3 separate regions of the Homo sapiens genome follow, and regions 1 and 3 are each linked to region 2. The links come from fine-mapping of genetic effects on gene expression. A gene starts in region 2. Each other region holds a variant in brackets. All regions are shown on one strand. Distances are from middle to middle.

What was found. PIP is the estimated chance that this variant, and not a neighbour inherited with it, causes the effect.
Region 1: its variant is the best candidate, but not a certain one, in a credible set for the expression of CREB5 in monocytes after R848 (Quach 2016, PIP 0.51).
Region 3: its variant is the best candidate, but not a certain one, in a credible set for the expression of CREB5 in blood mononuclear cells (TOPMed, PIP 0.50).

What each region holds. Positions count from the first base shown.
Region 1 is chr7:28,701,324-28,708,518 of GRCh38, forward strand. All of the region lies in intron 5 of CREB5 (cAMP responsive element binding protein 5), which reads left to right. Among named protein-coding and RNA genes, the nearest start is that of TRIL, 250 kb to the right of the region's middle. RefSeq lists an enhancer at 3,448-3,517. The variant T/G (reference allele first, on the strand shown) is at 4,111.
Region 2 is chr7:28,408,352-28,415,546 of GRCh38, forward strand. CREB5 (cAMP responsive element binding protein 5) reads left to right here and starts at 4,167. Exons shown (of 11, transcript NM_182898.4): 1 at 4,167-4,566. The coding sequence starts at 4,564. RefSeq lists silencers at 559-853, 822-891 and an enhancer at 4,164-4,253.
Region 3 is chr7:28,666,115-28,673,309 of GRCh38, forward strand. The region is part of intron 5 of CREB5 (cAMP responsive element binding protein 5); the gene reads left to right. Among named protein-coding and RNA genes, the nearest start is that of CREB5, 260 kb to the left of the region's middle. The variant AT/A (reference allele first, on the strand shown) is at 3,483.

The DNA.
Region 1 (7,195 bases), 290 kb after region 2:
CCTCTTATTTTGGATAAAGCCAATTAACTCATTTGTAAATGGGCCAACTTTGAAATTCCATCAATGGCAGATAAAATTCATTTTAATAAGATTTATTCTGTAAAGTACAAACTGTGACTTGCTTCTGTAAAGGATCTGACATTAGAAGCTCACTTCAGGCTTTTGATGTGTTTTGGTTGGTTCTTGCAGGGGTTTTTCTTATAAAAGGTTGATTCCAATTTAAAATCTATAATTCTTACTACATACTCGTCTACAAATCAACTCAAACTAGGGGTATATATTTCTATCTAATAGTCACTTAGAGCTCTTTGAAAAATTACCTAGTCAGAAGGACACCTTCCATTCCAGCTGCCCAAGTTGTTCACATATGACATCAAATGATAGTTATAGTAATGGATAAATTGGAGCATAATTTTTTTGTAATTGCTCCATAAGTAAAAAAATATAATTGATTTTTTACCATCTTCCTTGATCTGGAAGGAATTGTATCAGTTTCCAGGACGTTGTAAAACAAAATATTTAAAGTATGTTTCAAATAATAAAAAGAGAAATACTTAACTTAATAAAGATGTGGAATTCATTTATGAAGACAAATACTGGCTGTGAACCAATAGGCCAAAGAGTCTGCCAGAAGTTTGCTGTAGACAGTCATTCTTGTATGTCCACTCTGCCCTATCACTCTGAAGTTCAATCCATATTAAGAAAATGAATTTTCTCAGCCATGCTAGACTTTGAAATCATTGATTTTGTTTGCTTTGTTTTTGAGTAATATAACAGAAGGTCTTTTTTCAGTTTTCTTCCTTATAAGGAATAGCAGTCCGTGGCACTTATAATTATAGCTCTTTCAGCCTTATTTTAATTAAAGAGGTTTGTTTGGCATATATATTTGATGCTTGGGAATTTTATATAAAAGTTATAGGTTTTGATCCTTCTGGAGAGCTTCAACAACTGAAACCATGGTGAAAATGGAAAGCACTTAACTTTCGTAAGAACACTTGAATGTTTCAGTATTACCCGAAAGCAAAATTATAAGCCTTGGAAAGAAAACATTTCCATTTGGCATTTTCACTTTTGTGCTTGTCAAGAGAAATAGCCTCAGGCTTCAGAAAAGCAGAAAGATCTATTACCAATATCATGAGGCAAGCACTCCGGTGCTCACTTATGTTGGATCAATCTTGTTCACTTCTAGAAGCCTTTCCAACTATGTTATGATGTTCTCCTTTCTGCTTCTCCATCCAGACGGAGCAGTGTCCTCCAGAAAGTAAGCGTACATTTTCCCAATGGTGAAAGGAAACCAGAATGATTTTACCCAAATGCATAGCCCCTGCCTCCAGGGAGATTTGAGACTAATCACAGAGATGGATACTAAACAAAATAACCATACCTATTAATATGTTATTAGAAATAGCATGAAGGAAAACCACAGGGGCCTATGTGACCCTTTAACTTTGTGGTTGCTAGATTTGGCCTTTAATTTGGGGGTCAAAGAAAATTTTAAGAAAGAGATATTTAAAAGGAGACCTAAAGGATGAATGAGAATTTGTCAACAAAAGAGCAGACGGCAAAACCTTCCAGGCAAAGATCAAAAGATGCTTCAAGGCCCTGGGGTGGGAAAGAGTGTGGCACATTCTAGGAAATGAATGGAAGCTTGGGTGGATAGACCCTTTCAAGCCAGGTGGAAAGATAGTACTACAGGCATCAATGAGGTAGAACATATAAAAGATACTGAAAAAACATCCTAAATGCTAAGGAAAATCATGCAAGAATGTTGAACAGGGAAATGTCATGACCAGATCTTTGGTTTATGAAGATCATTCTGGCTACAAGACAGAGTTTGGATAGAAGAAGAGCAAAACTGGAGTCAGAAACTGTTGGAAGAAACCAAGAGAAACAACACTGTGTTTTGGACTAGGATCTTGGCAGTAGGGATGGAGCCAAGTGGATACACTCCAGGTCTATTTTGGGGGTGGAGTGAATAGAACTTGGTGAATGATTAGAAGTACAAGATGAGGAATCTCAAAGTTAATGACTAAATTCTGCTAATTCACTTCTACCAAATATATTTAAGGAAATATGAGGGGAAAGATCTAAAGACGGAGCACTGTACTAGTCAGGGTTCTCCAGAAAAACAGACCAAAAAGAGAGAGAGATATATGGTTTATTATAAGGAATTGACTCACCAGATTATGGAAGCTAAAAAGCCCCATGATCTGCCATCTGCCAGCTGGAGACCCAGAAAAGCAGATGGTGTAAATTCCAATTGGATTCTGAAGGCCTGAGAACCAGAAGCACCAATGGTGTTGCTCCCAGACTAAGGTCAGGAGAAGACAGATGTCCCAGCTCAAGCAATCAGGCAGAGAGAGAGATAACTCAACCTTCCTCCACCTTTTTCTTCTATTCAGGTCCTCAATGGATTAGATGAAGCCCACCCACATTGGGGAAGGTATACTGCATTACTCAGTCTACCAATTCAAATGTTAATCCCTTCCAGAAACAACCTTATAGGTGCACTCAGAAATAATGTTTAACCAGATATCTGGGCAACCCATGGCCCAGTCAAGTTGACATAAAACCTACCATCACAGGCACCATGGACTGGATCATCCATAGGACTCAACCTAGGCACTTAGGGAATGTCATCTTAGCTCTTTAGCAGGTGGTGTCAGGTATCATCTACTATGAAGTAGTGAAATGTTTTTCCTGGCAGACCTGGAGGATTTTCATCATTCTCAAAATGTCCAGTTTAAACCTAGTCCCAATGAGTCTGATGGCTCCAACACTGAAAAGACAGAACTGCTTATTTGGGGACCTGTCCTACCTCTCCTAAAAGATGTCATTGTGCTTACTAATAAATTACTTATTCTAGTGCACAAAGAGTGAAACCTTTATTTCCTGCTCATCCAAAGGATTATTGTTCATATGTGAGAAGAAATGACCTCCTCGCCTACCTGTCACGATTCCTGGTTCCTGCTGCCCTCCTCAGCTAAATGTTACTTGCACTCAGAGATCATTTGAGCCTTTCTTTTGTTCAAGGAAAGGAAAGTCCAAGAACAACCAGTAAGGAATTACTCATCTATATGTGTCCACCTTTGAGGAAAATCTACCTTTAACTGACGTGTTGCTTCCCTGAAATAAATAATAGTTCTGGATCTCTCACTTTTTTTTTTTAAGACAGAGTCTCTGTTTCTGCAGTGACACGATCATAGCTCACTGTGTCTTCAAACTCCTGGGCTCAAGTGATCCTCCCACCTTAGCCTCCCAAGTAGCTAGTACTACAGGCACCCCACCATGCCTGGCTCATTTTTAAATTTTTTGTTAAGATGAGATCTTGCTAAGTTGCCCAGGCTTGTCTGAAACACCTGGGATCAAGAGATCCTCCCGCCTCAGCCTCCCAAAACACTGGGATTACAGATGTGAGCCACTGCACCCAGCCGGATTACTCTCTCTTGATCATATCTACTCATTTAACTTTAGGGTTGAAAAGGCCCTTGAAGATTGTTGGTTCAGCCATTTTTTGTGTGTGTGTGCATGAGGAAACAGAAACTCAGAGGCACTGAGGACACAGCCCTAGATCACCAGGCAAATGACTGGCTGAGTCAGTAGACACTCTTGCTGGTGTATTCATATTCAAAGCCATATCATGCAGGACTCAGTTACTTCACTTTGTCATTTTGTGATCATCAGGTTGACACATCTTAAGAAAGCACAATTTGGCCTTTCTGTTCTGGTCAGGAATCTGAAGAAAAAAACCAAGCTATCGGCTGGGCATGGTGGCTGACGCCTATAATCCCAGCACTTTGGGAGGCCAAGGCAGGCGGATCACGAGGTCAGGAGTTCAAGACCAGCCTGGCCAACATGGTGAAACCTCATCTCTACTAAAAATACAAAAATTAGCTGGGTGTGGTGGCAGCCACCTGTAATCCCAACTACTCAGGAGGCTGAGGCAGGAGAATTGCTTGAACCCGGGAAGCAGAGGTTGCAGTGAGCCGAGATCACTCACCACTGCACTCCAGCCTGGGTGACAGAGTGAGACTCTGACTCAAAAAAAAAAAAAAAAAGAAAGAAAGAAAAGAAAACCAAGCTATCATGACAGACCAGTGAAGGGATTTT[T/G]GGGGGAACACTTACCGCCAGTGAGCAAGCATAATGTTTTGCATGTTCTTTAAGTGTACTGTCAGTCACTTTCCGTTTCTATTTATACTAGGGACTTACTGTCTATAGCTAAAATTGACATTTACTGTGCCCATAACCCTACCACAAATTAAAATCAGACCCCAAGTCCCTCTGGGGAAAATGTTTATTAAGCTGTAGGAAGACATCTGAAATGATACCAAATTGCATTTTAAACTTGAAACCCCAAATACCACATTTGTTTGCAAGTAGGAATAGGACTGTCTGAGGAATCATTTGAGAAACTGAGCAAGTCACTCTCTTTGGCAACATGCAGGGCCACCAGGGAAGAGAAAAGTACCTTAGAAGAAACACTTTATATAAACCCCTTGTGGCTTTTAAGTAATCATTTAAACGTAAACAAAATATTCTTTAGAATGAACTCAAAAGAAAAGTAAGCCTTTTAAAATTCCATGCCTTTAATGAACAGACACAGACATTTCAATTGTACTTATAAATACCCTGAGAAGAGGGTTGAGAGAAATATCGAAATAAAACAAGTCCATTAAAATGTAAACCTGGGTTCCAGAGTTTCTCCTGCTAATACAGGCAAAAGTGTGTTTGAGACAAAAAAAAATCTTCAGCCGGGTGCAGTGGCTTGCGCCTGTAATCCCAACACTTTGGGAGGCCGAGGCGGGTAGATCACCTGAGGTCCGGAGTTCGAGACCAGCTCGGCCAACATGGCGAAACCCCATCTCTACTAAAAATACAAAAAATTAGATGGGCATGGTGATGGTTGCCTGTAATCCCAGGCACTCAGGAGGCTGAGGCAGGAGAATTGCTTGAACCTGGGGGAAAGAGGTTGCAGTGAGCTGAGATCGTGCCATTGCACTCCAGCCTGGGCAACAAGAGTAAAACTCCATCTCAAAAAAAAAAAAATCTTTCTAGCACTTTTGCCCTTTAGGATGTAGGTATCTGTGGGTGTTTGTATGTAGCAGGTGTATTTATGTACATAGATTGGACACAGTGTCAATCTCAGAACCTAATAATGGAATCAATTTTGTCTACAGGGAAGCCATACTCAGTGGTTTCTTTGCTTGTGTGTCCAGTCCATGAGTAGCTTGGAAAATAGCAAAGCCAGGTTGAAAAGCCATTTGAGATCCTTGAATGCAAAGTGTAAAGTACATGCCAAGTATCATTATTATGAGCTTTATTGCTACTATTTTACTAAGTGTTTCAGATTAATATCAATTCTGCTTCATGATAAGTGCTCTTGCAAAGTGGGAGAACTTGCAAGGTAGCTCAGGGAAGGTTGCACAAGAGAGAGCACACAGTTTCCTAGAAACTTCACCCTTCCCCCATACCCCCTGTTCAAGCCAGTGGTAGCTTGACTGTCCCTAGAAATCAGGATAGTGTTTCAAGTTATCATAGCCCTTAAAAAGATGACTGTCATGGATGTGACATAGGGGTATAGCTGCCAGGAAATAAGAGATAGTGGACCATGAGGTAACGTTGTTAAGTCTGTTAAGAAACCTCTGTGGGGCTCCTATTGTGTGCCAAGCTCAGTGCTCTCAAATATTCTCCCTTCAGCCTAGAAGAGAGACTGGTACCTGCTGTAAGGGGTCTGGCATGGAGAGAAAGCCGGCTTCCCTGAGAAGAGGATGGGGGATAACTGGGGACTCACAGTAATGGAGGAGACACCCATACCCCTCGGAGAGGCTGGGTGTTTCTGGGTCTTTTCCCCAAATGCTTCACCCCCAAATTTAGAACAATATAGCTTTACTTTGTGTTTTAAAATGACAGTTGTATTAACTGTATTTTCTACAGCAGATCACTCATCTCTTAAATAGATTATGCATTGATCGTCTTCAAAGGGCTAAGCACACTCAAAATATTCTCTAAAGTCATTCTCATGCCATACCTGTGACATGGATATTACAGCCACGTAGTTTTTGCCAATGAGAAAACAGAGGAGTTAGATGCCTTGCTAAGATCACACACTCCTGGTCGGTGGCAGAGCCAGGAGGCGGCCAAAAGCCTATGCCTGTCAGCCCCACAAGGCTACCTTATTGGATTTCCTGGTTAAGGATGGGAGTCAGCGTTATCTCTATCATTTCTGTCAGCCACTATGTCTGGAATAAGTGACAATAATAGACCTAATTTAGGACTCCGAGAGGTTTGCCAGTTCTTCCTCCTTCTCCCTAGAAAGCAAGTCAGACAGGGACAAGTCTATTTTTTAAGAGCCCAAGAAGAGGAAATTTCAAAATCTCTATTAGCCATTTAATTGTTTTACACTATTTGTTCTTGGGAGATATTCTTTTCTAAGTTAAATCCACATGCTGCTGATGTACTGTTACTATTCTGCTTCAGTTGTGTTTGAAAGTAACTGGTGACCATTCTCAGATTATAGTAATTTGCAACTTTGAAGATCATCATCATTATCTGCCAGCCTTCTCTAATGTCTCCCCCATGGGCTAAAGAAGTCTTATTTCCTTTACTTTTCCCATTAAGTCTTCCCTTCCGGCTTTTTAGTATTTTCTCATGCTTCTCTGGAACCTTCTCCAAATTCTCCACACCTCCCCCTTCTCCCCATGATGCCTGACAAGGATCCCTTTGGGAATCCTCACTCTGATCCCAGGGTTTTTGGTGATTTGATCACAGCGGTGATTGAGATAGAGCCTGAAGCTCTCTGTTAGGATATAACCCAGTGAAGAGTTTGCTCAGCCTTGTTAGGCAATGCCCCTTTCCTTGTTCATGTTTCCTTGGAGAATAAGTGATCCTCTCAGCACGCTATCACTTTATCATTAAGAATAGAACTTGAGAAATCAGGCTTTTAGCAGCCCAAGGTTGCATAGTCCATGCATGTAGTCACAGCTGCTGAAAACCACTCCCTCTGGGCCACCGACACATCCCTCCCCTGCCAATGTATCGTGGAGCTAATAAATTCTAGCGCTGCCTTTTAAAGAGCTGAAATAATCCCAGCGAGTGGCTGGGTGGAGGGTGTCATAAATTTGGTCTCCCAGGAGAGATATTTGAAAACTGCCGAAGAGACCCTGCCTTGAGATTCGAGAAAAGGTGAAATAAGAGC
Region 2 (7,195 bases):
GCCTATGCCTTCTCTTTGAATCCTACTCAAAGGGAGAACTTCTGAAAGGAAATTCAGCAGGGGGATGGTGACAGTGATGGTGACGGCCGGATACTGGAGACGCCAGGCTCCTCTCGCTGCAGACCAGGCGCCCGGATCCTGCAGTCTGGCCCTGGCTCTGCCGCTCCCCAGCCCGTGAGCTTGGGCCAGTTACCGAAGAGGCTCTGGAAGTGACAGCCAAGGGCCCTTTCGGCTCTGACGCCGTGTCTAAATCAGGCTCATCACTTGGCTCTAGCTGTGATTCACCTTTCGCCTTAGGAGCAACTCTCCCTACAGCTTCTCAGACGCATGAAGCAGGGGTCCCGCGAAGGGTGGGGCTGTGTATTTCATGAGAGTGTGCACCATAAGGAAGTTATTCTCCTGGAGGAGGTGAGATGAGGGGGCGGTGAAGAAGGGGTGACAAGTGAGTGCTCTGAAAAGCCAGGATGCAGGGAGCACTGAAATGAGGTCATGACTGTCGCAAGCAAAAAGGAGCTGGACATCCTCCGGTGGGGGAGGGAGGAGCGTCCTGCATTTCTGTTTGCAAAGTCTTTTCCCACATCCTTCAGCATCCCCCTCCCCACCTCTCCCCTACCCCCATCCCTACACCTTTCAAACCCCATCAGGCCCTCCCCGCAGAAGAGCCCACGCCCGCGCCTCCTCCGTGGTCTTGTCTGAAACCATAAGGATTGTTTCCAAGCTGACTCACACCACTAATGTCAGGGAGCCGTGTCACACGGCGCTGGGCTCTGCAAGCTGTTGCTTGCGCAGTCGCCCCCGCCGCTGCCGCTCCCGGGCGGGTGCACCAGGGTCCGCGCGGGCGGGGCGGGGTCGGGGCGGGACCGGGGCGGGGCCTGCCCCCTCGACGCGCCGGCCCCGCCCCTCGCTCCGTCCCTCCCCAGCGGACCGCAATGATTTAGAAGTTCAGGAATCCCACGTGACGTCACCGGGGGGGTGATGTAATGCACTCTAAATAGAATGTATTGTAATCTTTGCTCAGTCCAACGTGGTCCCTTCACCCGGGCTCCGCTCTTGCCTTCTCCACACTTGTTTGGTAAGTTCCTAAAAATACGGCTCGGCCACTTCTGGGGCTTTTGCATTTAGCCACTTTTGTTGCACTTGCCGCAGGAGCCATCTCGGGAGTGTACTTGTTTGCAGGGGTTGGTTCTCGGCAGCAGCCGCGAGGTTACTTGGTCCAGTGGGCAGGTCACAGGGCAAGGAGTAGGGAAGATGCGATGCATTTTTTTCTGGAGGGTGATCTGTGTTTGTAAACATTTTGGCGGACCAGAGGGAAGTCCGGCCCCGAGTGCTGGTAGACTGTGGAATTCGGCTGTGTCCTGAGGCCACCCTAGAGACCCCGCGCCGCGTGAGTGCCGGAGCGCTCGGTGGCCGCCGCGCCGCGCGCCTGGAGGGATGCTAACGTGGAGCCGGCGCCGAGTCCGCCCGGCGTGCGTGCGTGTGTGGGAGCGCGCGAGTCCCCTGACGCGGGGACCAGTTATGAATCGGGGGTGTGTGTTTGCCTCCAGAGACCTGGCAAGGTGCGGAGCCCTCCAGAAGTGCGGTCAAGCGGCAGCGGAGACGGCGAGCCAGGAACCTCCCCCCGCGTCCCCAGCTTCCCAGCGTGGCGGCGGAACCCCCGGAGAAAGTTTGCAAACTTCCAGCGGGCGCGGCGAGGACGCCGGGTCACCTAGGGGGCGGGTGGGCGCGCGCGCAGGGGGCTCGCTCTCCCCGGTGCGGAGCTGCAGCTGCCACCTCTCCCGCCGGGCTGCCGGCTGCAGCGGGTGGGCGCGCGCCCGGGGAGGGGAGGTCGCCCTCGGAGGGCGCTTGGCTTTCGCTCCAGGCGCTCCGGGCTGGAGAGCGGCGAGGCTCCGTCCGCTCCAGTCCACTCCTCCGGCCGCCTCCTGCCTCCGCTGCTTTCTTGCTGGCATCGTTACCTCTTCCCGGCCGCTGCCCCAAATGACAGCTCCGGCTCGAGCTTTGGCGGCGCCCAGGCAATTCCCAAGACCTGGCGGCGGAGTCTCCCCCTGCGGCAGATTCTCGGCAGAATCACTTGAACTTTTCACGAAGTTCTTAGAGGGGCAAGATGCGAAGGAAGGAACCAAGGAGATGTTTTCTCTCAGCAGCTGCATCCCGCTTCTTCTTTGCCATAGATTTATTTTTAAGGGGCGTCTGGTAGATAAAGCCCTAGACCTTGTCCACACTCTCACCCCCATCCCCAACTTTCCCTGGACCGGTGCCGCCCCCACTTGATGCTTGCTCAAGGCCGGGGACTGGAGCGGGCTACTTGTATATTTCGTTGTCAGTCTGCAGAATGTGTTTGATTTTTATTTTTCCCTCCTTCTCTGACATGTGTCAAGGAATAAAGACTGGATACAGGTCCATTACGTCATTCTGCAGGCCAGTAAGTGTTTGATTAACGGCTTGAGCTCCTCAAGGGTTCAGGAGCTTAGAATGCTGACAAAGCAACTCTGCTTTGCATCCCCCTACCCTCCCCACAACACACTCGTGCAATCGCCGGCTCCCTGGGCATCTTTATTGCCCTCTCTTCCCAGCCCCTCCCTCTCCACCACTCCCCCGTCTACACCGTTATCACTCTAGCCCCGCCCCCGCCTTTTTACAGCTTTCCCTGGGGCGAGCACGGTCCCTGGAGTGTGGGTAAAAGCTTCTGGGGTCTGAGGGGACCACTGTACCTGATCAGCGCGCAATCCGCCCTTTTGTATTATTTAAGAAAGGCACCAGTAAGCCTTCTCCTCTAGGGCGAAAATGCTTAGTCCTGATAGAAAAGGCAAATCAGGAAATGTTTGCAAGCGTTATGATAATACTCTGTCCTCGTGGTGGTGACTTAGGAAAGCAATACACCCACTGCAAACAAAGTATTTCACTTTACGTAGTGCCTGCCCTTTAGCAGAAGAGGGATGCTGACAAAATCAGGTTTAGCTGAAAGGATCAAGACTAAACGTTTCATTTCCAAAGTGAGGGAATGTGAGTCGTTGAACCTAAACTTCCATACAATAAATTGCTGCGTGCGTTAGTTTCTAGCTCTTAACCTTAAGTTTCTATGTTGAAAGAGGAAGTCGAATACGTAAGTCATTGAACTGAGTCAGAACCTCCGTATCTGGCAGTTGAAATAAAGACCCTGTGTATGACTTGTTGCAAGGGATCAAAGTAAAAAGAACCCTCGGTGTGGGGGGTGGGGGGGTGGGGGCGTGAGGGAGGTGTGCAGCAGAAATTAAATTTAAAAAAGTATTAACAGAGTTTTGGATAGAGGGAGAGAGGGGATTGGAGTGGTCCCTGATTTGGAGTTGGTGAAAACTAAATAAAGAAAAGTTTATATTGCAAATATGTGGGAATTTCTTGAAGAACACATGTTTTCTTATAATTAGATCTACTTTCTTCAAAGCGAAAGCCATGCTGTAGGGTAGGCATTTGTGAAACTCCTGTCTGGGGTCTAATTGACATCCTTCCCCAAGTCTGTGGCAGGATTTAGTATTTATTCACATCTAGAGATGAAATAGTGTAACCTCCACACAATATATGTGCATCGAAAATGTTGAACTTCTTGTTTGTGATGCATAGACTTAAAGGAAAAAAAATGGCCCAGTCATGGGCACTGGAAAGTGTGATTAATGATCAGTGATTTAGTGATCAGTGATTAGTGGTTTTATTCAAACTGTTACCTCTGACCAGAAGCACACATCAGAGGATTAACAGGCTCTTTAGATAAATGCTCATTAGTGGAAGGGGAAAAGCAAAGATAATAGGCATGCACCCAGGGACAACTTTCGAAGAAAATCATTCCCGTCTTCAGAATAATAAGCTCTATTAACAGAAAGCCCTTTTAATTTAAAACTTGCTTTTATCTTGTAAATCAAAGTTAGATGTAAAAGTTTGTAGTGCCATTATAACCTAAATTTTCCCATATCCACTAGATGTGGATTATCTCAGTAGCGATATTTTTTTTTATTTAAACAAACAATTGGACCTTTAGAGCAGCTGAACCCTGACAAGTTCTTAACTCCCAGGGTTTGAAAGTGTCCCCCCTTCTAGCATGGAGATTGCAGCTTGCTAACTAGATGGCGCACTGTTATTTGGTGTTCTCTGCTGCGTAGCGCAGGAGTATAAACTGAGCATGTAGCTGCTTGCGAGGTGTTCTTCAACATTTACAACAAAGTTGATTCTGTGTAGGGTTGGAGGCTAGACAGTTCCACAAATTTTTAGTCACATTTTCCATGTCAGTTAAATCTAGGGAGTTCAAGACTACTGGAAAAATTAGTCTCATTACTAAAAGAAACTTAGAGAACGAGGGAGGTACCAGAGTCTAGGAGGTACCTCTGGGTTGCAGAAGTAATTGTAAAATACCAGACCTGTTCTTTTTACTAAAAGCTAGTTTCACTATCTTCTGGTCTGAAATACTGAGGCAAATACTCAAGACTTATTTTCTTCCTAATCTTGCTGGTGAAACAGAAGTTACTAGAAAGAAAGGAAGAAAAAACTTGATTTGGTGACTGCAGGAAGCAACACGTTGCTGCTTTTATTCTACAGATAATGGTAAGGATGATGTTTATTATGCATATTAAACAGAGAGAAAACTTTGCACTTAGTTAAATAGAACCAATGTTGTATTTTCATAGATGGAATTCAGAAATGGAGTTTAGATTTTGCACAAAATTTTAATGTTGCTTTTGTCAGTTTCCTGGGACTTATAGCATTTTATGTGGAAGGATGTGTGTGTGTGTGTGTGTGTGTGTGTGTGTGTGAATAAGACTATTATTTCCCAGGTAAAATATGTTCAGAAGCATATGAACTACAGTGGGGAAGCTATGGAGCATGTTAAGTAATGTGTCAAGCATGAATTCCCCTTTCTGTGAGGTTTCATGAATCACTTCAATAAGTATTTAAGTTTTAATAAGAAAGTTCTTGAAAAAGAAACCTAAAAATTAAAAAAAAACAATAAAACAGTTTTCCGCATTCAAACCTAGATGTGTATGCCCCTGAAGGATGATTCTATGGGTTGAATATCAACTATTACTTTAGTTCTAAAACTTAAAAGAAGAAGTATAATAAAACTCACTTGTGTCTCCCCAGAAATGTTTCTCATTTTCCTTTGCTTATAGCATTTTATATGGATCTCTTATTTTTAAATCCTTACTGATTATAGTGGTTTTTATTTTTCAACTTAACTCATAGTAAACATATTTGAAAATATCTCCAAGCCCACTATTTTTAATGTAAATTGCTGGTGCCGATAAATTGCCTGTCAATTAGCGGTCAGTCGTGACCTTATATAGTTGATACCTGAGAAGATAGTTTATTAGAACATTCCAACAAAAAATTGGAAACCATGCCCTTATTTCTAGATCTCTGTTATGTCACAGCTTTTATTTGAATAGGTGGCTAAATGAATGGTAGTTTGTCACAGAGACTTTTCCTGCATAGATTTTCAATTCTAGTAAGTTTAAGATTTTTGTTACAATGATTTGTCAGTTTCCCACACCTGCACATTCAAAACCAATCAATCATGGAGTTTCCATGATGGCAAGTTCCTAGACTCCCAATTTCTTACTATAATCTACTTTTTAGCAATGAGGTATCACAATCCTATAATATTTTCTTGTCATTGGAGTTTACTTCTTACTAAGCTAAAAATTATTTTGTCGGTGTGTAGTGTTCACTAGATCACTAAGATGTGAACTTTGTATTTGTAGTTCATTTTCTTCTGGTTATGTTGTTGGATTAAAATTGGGATTTGAGTGGACTTATTATTTTTGTCATCTTTTCTTTCTTCTCCTTCTCCTTCTCCTTCTTCTTCTTCTAAGCAATGCAGTTAGTCACAAAATTAATGTGATCCTGGCTGGTGTTTCCCATCTATATGCTTCTTTTGCTTCTTACAAATTGGATTTCTACAGCAATTTAAGGTCTTTTTTTTTTTTAGAGGCAGCTTTCTTGGATGAAGATGGAACAGTGATCTCAGTCAATTCATTATCTTGTCCACTTTGACTACCAGCTGTATTATGGGAATCAACCAATGCTTAATTAGTGTTTAAAAATTTAAATCTATGACTATTTCTCTGAATTCTATTTAAGAAAATTATACAATTGAGATAAGGTAATAAACTGGGGGGCAATTGCCTTAAATATCTAAGTGTGAGGAAGAAGCACTTTCAGATATGCTAAACAGACTTAAAGACACAGAAGACCCTTTTTGTGTTGCTATTTGTAAAATAAGTAAGCTATCTATTTTGTGGCAATGCTTTAAATACAAAGTCTGGCACTTTAAAAATGACATCATGTTTAATGTTTTCACTAAAGAATTATTACATTTCGTAATTAGGAAAAAAATGAGCAATTAGTGTTTTTTGAGTATCCATTAGTATTCCATTGTTGAGAATCACAAATCATAGATTTAACATAGGAATTTTTTTTTTTATAAAAAGAGAGAAGCCTTTTAGAAATTTCCAGATAGTGATAGCACTCTTCCAGAAACCCCACTAAAATTTTTGAAGCTCTTATTGAGGACTCTGGGACTGTCACAGTAAAAGATAAAGTTTAGGATAAATTCTTGAACCCATAAAAGATATTATATTGACATTTCAATATTTCTTTTTTCCAAGTTCACTGTATTGCCTTCCCCCTCACCCCCTGAGAAATAGATCAGAATCAGTTTATCACTTTAAAAATATGTATTTCAGCTGCTTTCTTCTATTTCCTTAAGGTTACATTTCTGATCTTAACCCTAAAAAGATTTTAGGATTTCAATCCTTAACAAGGATTGAAAACTACCAGGCTGGCGTTTGACTAGAACTGATTTTAGAGGGAGTTCTTTTAGGCCTAGAGATTCTGATGGTGAGTTACAAAGGCTTATGGCTTTACACGGATGGTAGGGCTAGGGGAGGGCCTCGGATTGATAGACCAATTTTTCATTTTACAGAAGAGACCCCTGGCTCACCCAAGGCCCAGAGCTAGAGAGAGCCAAACCAGGCTGAGAAGCCTGGTCCCTGCCTCCAGGTCGGGTGCTCCTGCCATAAATGCCCTTGTCAGGAATGGGGCATAACCTATGACTTTGTATCCTTCACTCTTTTCAAGCCTTTTGATGACTAATCTTTCAAAGACAAATTTTTATCAGATCTTTGGAATGAACACCTTAATCATAAAAACTGTAGTTTCTATTTCATTCATT
Region 3 (7,195 bases), 260 kb after region 2:
TTTGGATAATAAATGAGAAATACATGTTGTGAAGATGAAACTTGCATGTCATACCCAAAATCAGAAATTGAGCTCTGTCCCTCTGTGTGCTCAGCAACACCATTCAAGCTACAAAACACCTTAGGGATATTTAATGTTCTGTGCCCACCCCTTATAAATGTATATGACTCAATATCCCCAATGAGTAATGTGGCCAGCAGCCATACCACCTTCAGCTAAGCTCTCATAAGCTGAACAGGGTTGGGCTAGATCCCTGTTCTTATGAGAGACCTCCAAAGAAACCCTGGAGGTGTCAGTGATGATTCAGTGGGTAGTTCCCTGACTTGAGTCAGTCCCAAATCACTTTCCTTTCCTGATGTTAACGGATCCTTTACATATGCAGGTGCGGCTTTTTTGAGAATCAGTCCAAACCCTGTTTACTTTTAAAATATATATATTTTTTATTTAAAATAAACGCCATGGACCAGATAGCCCAAAGAAAGGGAAGAGGAAAAGAAAGGGTACAACAGAACAGGAGAAAATGGATACATTGCAAGCTAAATCCCACTTCAACAAACTTTGTCAAACTTGGGCATGGTGGTTCACGCCTGTTATTGCAACTACTCAGGAGGCCCAGGCAGGGGGATCAGGATCACCTGAGCCTAGGAGTTCAAGACCAACCTGGGAAAATAAAAAATAAAAAAATTAGCCAGGAGTGTGTCCCAGCTACTTGGAGGCTGAGGCGGGAGGATCAATTGAGCTCACTTGAGTTCAAAGCTGCCGTGAGCTATCATTATGCCACTGTACTCCAGCCTGGACAAAAGAGAGAGACCCTTTCTTAGGAAAAAAAAAAAAAACCTCAAAATGATTTCCCTAGTTATTTGATTATAGTGGAGCTTGCTTGTCACAAACTTTGCTTGGATCAAATAGGTCACCAGCGACAAGACTTGGGGATCTGCTTTTTTGTGAAGAGTGAAACGAGGACTGATGCTCTTGGAATCATGTAGAAAATTCTGTCTGACCGTGAACAAGCCACTGTAAACAAATCCGAAAGATATACACCTTCAAACAGTTCTCAGATGCATGCTGTCCCTGGGTGGGGCTGTTGAATCCCACTGTGGGAGCTGGAATGTCAATCAGAATTATCAAGGATACTATTTATTGGCATGAGTGTGTTCTTGTAAGCACTTACCCTTCCTATCTAGTTGCTCGAAACTGCCAGCAAGTTTTGTTTGGGGCAATTAAAATGCTATGTGACCCCTTAGAAATTTCTGTCTTGAGGGTGTTCAAATTTTTAAAGATACAGAATATTTTGAGGTTTTGGAATAAAAAGCACTTGTTAATATATAAAAGAAACTGTGGGCATATTTCCTTTCTTCCATGAAATACGCTTAGCCTGCTTATATCCTTTTTAAACCAAGGATATGAATAAATCTGCCCAAATATTTTCTTTGGGATGGGAATCATTCTCTAAGTAGATGATGTTTTAAAAAAATAAAAGAGAGAAAAGAAAAAAAAGATGAAACCGTTAAAAAAGAAAACTTCTTGGTGTTATATAAGAACTCATTCTGTTTATTTGTAAACTCACAAAATGTTTCTAAGTTTGCAAATAAAAATTTTTCTATACAACCATTTTTGAAGCCGAATCCAGCCTGTCTCCTTAAAATGACAAAGCCGAGGAAACGAAAACAAATACCTGTTTAATGGACTCGAAATTAGTCCACATTTATACTTTTCTTTGAGAAATATGTTAGACTGAAAAATATGGCAAGTGGTTAATATTTGGTTCTTATTAACAAAGTTTTCAAACTTTTGCTTTGCCTTTAAAAAGGAGAATATTTACATTATGTGAGACAATTTAAAGGTTTAAAAAATGCACGTCTGCCTTTCAGTCACATGAAGTTAATCATACTTCTTCTTGCATAATTTCCCCAGCCTTGAGTACTACAGAGTTGTATACAAAAATCACACATTTTCATAAACCAATCTATAGTTAGGTTGTACCACGTTTAAGTCTCTTATAAACTCTACTTGTTTCAGGACTCATTGTTATGAGGACACGGAAAGAAACTTCATGAAGTTTCCCTTCCCAGGTCTAATGCATGACCTCACTTTATGCTGTTCAGTTTTTATTAAATTCTTTGCTAGCTTAATGCTAAAAGATATATAAGAAAACTAATAAAAAGAGTATAGCATCTTTTAATTGAAGGAAAAAATGAGTGCTTTGCATTCCAAAATGAAGGGTCATATATTCTTTTCCATTGTCTGGGTTTTGTAAACATCTCTGGACATGTCAAAGTTTATTTCTCATTATTTTAGTAATTACTTTTATTATATGTTTGTAACTATACAGAATCCTATTTTAATTATGCAACTGTGAGTGTGGTTTTATACGATGACAAAAGAATTGCTATGGCCAATGAAATATATGTTTTCCTGTAAAGTTTATGTTACAACAAAAAATACTGATTTAATCTTTAATATAGTAAGGAAGGGAGAAGGAAGTATGTACAAAAACCAAAACAAAATGAGTTCACAAAGGGTTAGGTTTTCTTCTAAACAGATTTGGATGAAAATAGGTTTTATTACATTGAAAGCAACGGGGAGTATTTTAGGTAGGAACTATCTGGTTCTTTGATATTATTTCTATAATTTCAGTCTGTATTAGAATCAGATCATATTGTTAGGCCTCAAGCGTGCCATGGCATTCAGTTTTACCGGTGAGTGAGAGTGTGAAGTTTCATGTCAAATTCATCACAATGCTCTGTCCACGGCCCGCTGCTACCCTCCTCTTTCAGAGGCTGGGGCCCTCTTGCTGACCCTCAGTTCTAGACCTTGTCCTTTCACTCTGCCCTGCTCTGAGGCCCCGTGTAGTGGTATCCTTCCCAGTATGCAACACGAGAAAGGCACCAATACTGTGCATCAGAAATTCTTAGTCAAGAAAGAACACATCTGGCTTGAGGTACCAGGAACCCTTTCTTGCAATGAAAACATTTGATATGGGTCTCATAGAAACTGCAGAACTATGAGCTGTGAAGGATGTTTCAAGTTGAAGGATCAGCATTAGCAAAGTTGTAGATGTAGGGAAGATCAAGATGTATTGAGAAAAATCAAACATGTCCAGTTTGGTTCTAGCCAAAACTTACAGGGTACGTGTTGGTAAATAGTGGCAGATGATGCTAAAATATAGGATGTGACCAAATAACTAGGCAACGTTTACTTTGATTTGTTAGCAATTGAGAGCTTGTGTTTTGAGCAAGGGAATAAAATGATTAAAACCCCTTTATGTTTGTGTCCTGGATTGGTTCCTGGAAATGAAATTAGTGAAATAAACTAATCCAAATAAAGCCTGAAGCTAAGTTAATAGTACTGTACCAGCGTCAATTTCTCAGTTCTGGTAAATGTACCGGGGTTGTGTAAGATGTTACCATGAGGGGAAGCTGGTGGAGGGCATACAGGAAGGCTCTGCTCTAGGCTTACAACACTTCTGAAAATCGGAAGTT[AT/A]TTCAAAATAAAAAGAAACAGCAACAACAAAACACCACTGTGGGACTCTATCTTCAACACAGGACCATCACATCAAGGGCAACAGGGGACGGCTTGGCTGATTTTTATAACAGTGGCTACAAGCCAAGCTCATAGAAGTAAAGCATTTACTGTTTTACCGTAAGCTCTGGAAGTCTGTTTCCTGTGTCAAGAATCTTTGTTGCTGTAATTTCACCTGCTCCTAGGATCTGCGTCGTCCTGTGCCCTGCCATAAGGATGTAACTCTCAGCTCAAAGCCAAGGGCTGCTCAAGGGACAGACACACCAGGCACAACAAGGGGAGCCCCCGCTACCTTGGGCTTCTCTTCTTGCTTTCTGTACCAATTCTCCTGCTGTCACTATCCCCTTTGACCGTGTTCTCATGTTCTCTGCCACATGCGAGAGAAAGTAAAACGTTTTTGAGACCAGTTGGTACATGGTCTGAAAAGTGCTTGCAATAATTCTCCCTGTCTACAGGGGACACTTTTCAAGACCCCCAGTGGATGCCTGAACCTGTGATCATACCGAACCCTCTATATACTGCTTTTTCCTATCCGTGCATACCTATGATAAAGTTTAATTTGTAAATTAGGCACAATAAGAGACTAACAACAATACCTAATAATAAAGTAGAACCATTATAGCAATATACTGTGATAAAAGCTATGTGAAGGTGGTTTCTCTTTCTCTCTCAAAATATCTCATTGTACCGTACTCACCTGTTTTCTGACTGCAGTTGACTGCAGGTAACTGAAACGGCAGAAAACCAAGCTGTGAATAAGGCAGGGCTACTATATTTGAGCTCATTGCCTTTTAGTCGGTGATTTTAAATGTATCTCTCCGTTAAGACCATTTACCTGAATTTGGGCTACTGTGTTTCCATCATTAGGAATGTTTTCTGTAGTCATTAATGCAGACTAAGAGAAGCTGACACTTTACCCCAAAATAATATAAACATATTTCATCTATGACTACTTTGATACAGAGTACGGCATAAGGGGATATGTAGCTTATATGAGGAAATTGTCTTAAGTTTGTCTTTAATTCTACATATCTCCCATGTGCCATCTAAAAAGCCTGGAACTATAAATCAATACAAGTCAAAACAAAGAAGTTCACTAATATGAAAATATATAGGCATGTGCATGTTGGTACAGTGTGTATTCTTTCCACAACTCTGTAGTAGCCTGCTTTGTTGAGGAAGTTACCATTACATTTCTTTAAAACAATTTGTAAAGAAATCCATTTCCCTTTCTTTTTAAATAGAGACAGGGTCTCACTATGTTGCCTAGGCTGGTCTCGAACTCCTGGCCTCAGGCAATTGCACTTGGCCACACACTTTTTGATAATGGACTGTTGCAGAAAATATAACTGTGGCGGAGAGTGGTGACTTCATGCCTGTGCTTTGGGAGGCTGAGGCGGGAGGATCGCTTGAGGCAAGGAGTTCGAGACTAGCCTGGGAAACATAGCAAGACCCTGTCCCTGCAAAAATTTTTAAAAATGAGCAGGACAGGCCTGTAGTCCCACCTACGTGGGAGGCTGAGGTGGGGAGGACTGCTTCAGCCTGGGAGGTCAAGGCCGCAGTGAGCCGTGATCTCACCACTGCACTCCAGCCTGGGTGACAGAGTGAGACCCTGTCTCAAAAAGAAAAAAAAAAAAAAGTGTGTACTAAATTGGTTGAGTTTTTTTAGTGACATTTATTGTCAAGTGAGTTCAGACATTTCCTATTTAAAAATACGTTTCCTGCTTTCTATGATCTCTTCCCAGAAAACTGAGGTTCTCTTATCGCTTGCTTTAGCATAAGCATAATTTTGGGTAACTTGGGTGACTCTTAGATGTTGCTAGTTCAACTAGAACACAGCAATCCTAATTTTTCAGACTGGGGAGAAGCAAGAGACTTTGGCCTTTTTCCCTGTCTCAGGTACCTCATCTAAAATTCTGGTGGGACTTGGGTTGCTTAGTCGCCAGTCAACATGTGAAGGTTACAACCAGACGGAGAAACCAAGAAAGACGAATTGAGCCTTTCAGTTCTTATTTGTTTTGTTTAGTGGCCTCAAAGAAAAAGCAACAAGGTGTGGTGGATTAGAGTATGAACACATCAGTCAACTGCCTGAGTGTGTGACTGGACTCTGCCACGTGCCAGCTGTGTGACCTTGGGCAAGTTACTTCACCTGTCTGAATTTTTGTTTCCTCAACTGTAAAAGAAAGATAAAAATAGCCAGATTTACTTTTAGAATGTGAAGAGACCTTACAGATTAGCTCTTAGTACATTGCTTGGCATTTAGCAAGGACTTTCTGGTTAGCTCTTATTTTTATTATAATAATTATTATTACACTTTCTTAATCTTTTTTACCTTCAAAGTTTCAACCATGCACTTAATGCCTGTGAGCTTTACACCTTAAAAAGATTAAAATGGTAAATTTTGTTGTTACGTATATTTTACTACAATGAATTAAAAAACAAGTTGCAATCATCCCAAACAATTAAATACAAAAATCACTTTCTAAAATAAAACAACACACATTCAGGACACCAGACAAGGAGATCAGTTGTATTATGGAAAAAAAAAAAAAACACACACACACACACACACACACACAAACACTGGACTAGGTTTTAAAAGACCTGGGATCTAGTTAATAAATCTGTGTTCTTGACCAAGTCATTACACCTTTCTAATCTCAGCTTTCTCCTTGGGAAAAGTTTTAAGAAGATTAAAGGAGATAACAGATTGCTTTGTAACACATATAAATTGGTATTATTGTGGCTAGAGTCCCTATTGCTTTTTATCTGCTTCTAAGAACAGATCCAGGATGTTGTACAGAACTGCAGAAAAAAAAAATGCTCTTTTCATAATGCATTTATTTGGTTACAAAAACATCATGGCATTTAATAACGTACTATAAAATAGGCTCTGATAAACTCTGATTGACAGAGACTGGCTGTCTTGACCTGGTTAACGGGAAATGCCCTGGGCCTCAGACCCAAGGCTGACATATTGTTCAGTTTCACAGCTTCCACTCCCCAGCCCAAAGCCAACAACGAATTCAGGGAAATTACTGGATGAGACCTCCCCTACAATCCAGAGATACCAGCCCTCCCAGTGCTGTCATAGAAACAGCTCTGAATTACTCAGAAGGGGGTCTGGAGTGGTTGAGCAAGCAAGCAGCTTAACTTCTCCCTAGTTCAGTTTTTTCACCTGCAGAATGAGGAAATTTGGACTTTAAAATTTTCATGCTCCAACACTGTGTGAGATTGTATTAACAAAGTACTTTGAAAATTTTAGGGTATTTTCCTGTTCTTTTTCCATAAATTTGAAGTAACCATTATGGCATTTGGCCTCTTAGATTACCTTGAGTCCCCTGGACCCCAGAAACCACCCGCCCCATACCTTACCTCTACTGCCCTTTTCTAAGTCAGTGTAGGCCATCTTCTGGGGAGGGAAGGATTGATTTAGACCCAGTGCCACTACTGTTGAGCAAAATTTGGATTTACCCAGAGTAATACAAGGATTTTCAGAAACATCCACAATTTAGCGTTTAAATCTTAAAATGTATTAATTGGTGTTTGCAATCTGGGATATTGAATTTCTCAAATCTTCCATTTGTTTGTATACTCAGGGCCTTTTGGGTCTAACACAATGGCTATCATCACACATTCTAAAAGGACCTCCCCATTTTAAAACCTGTCCCAG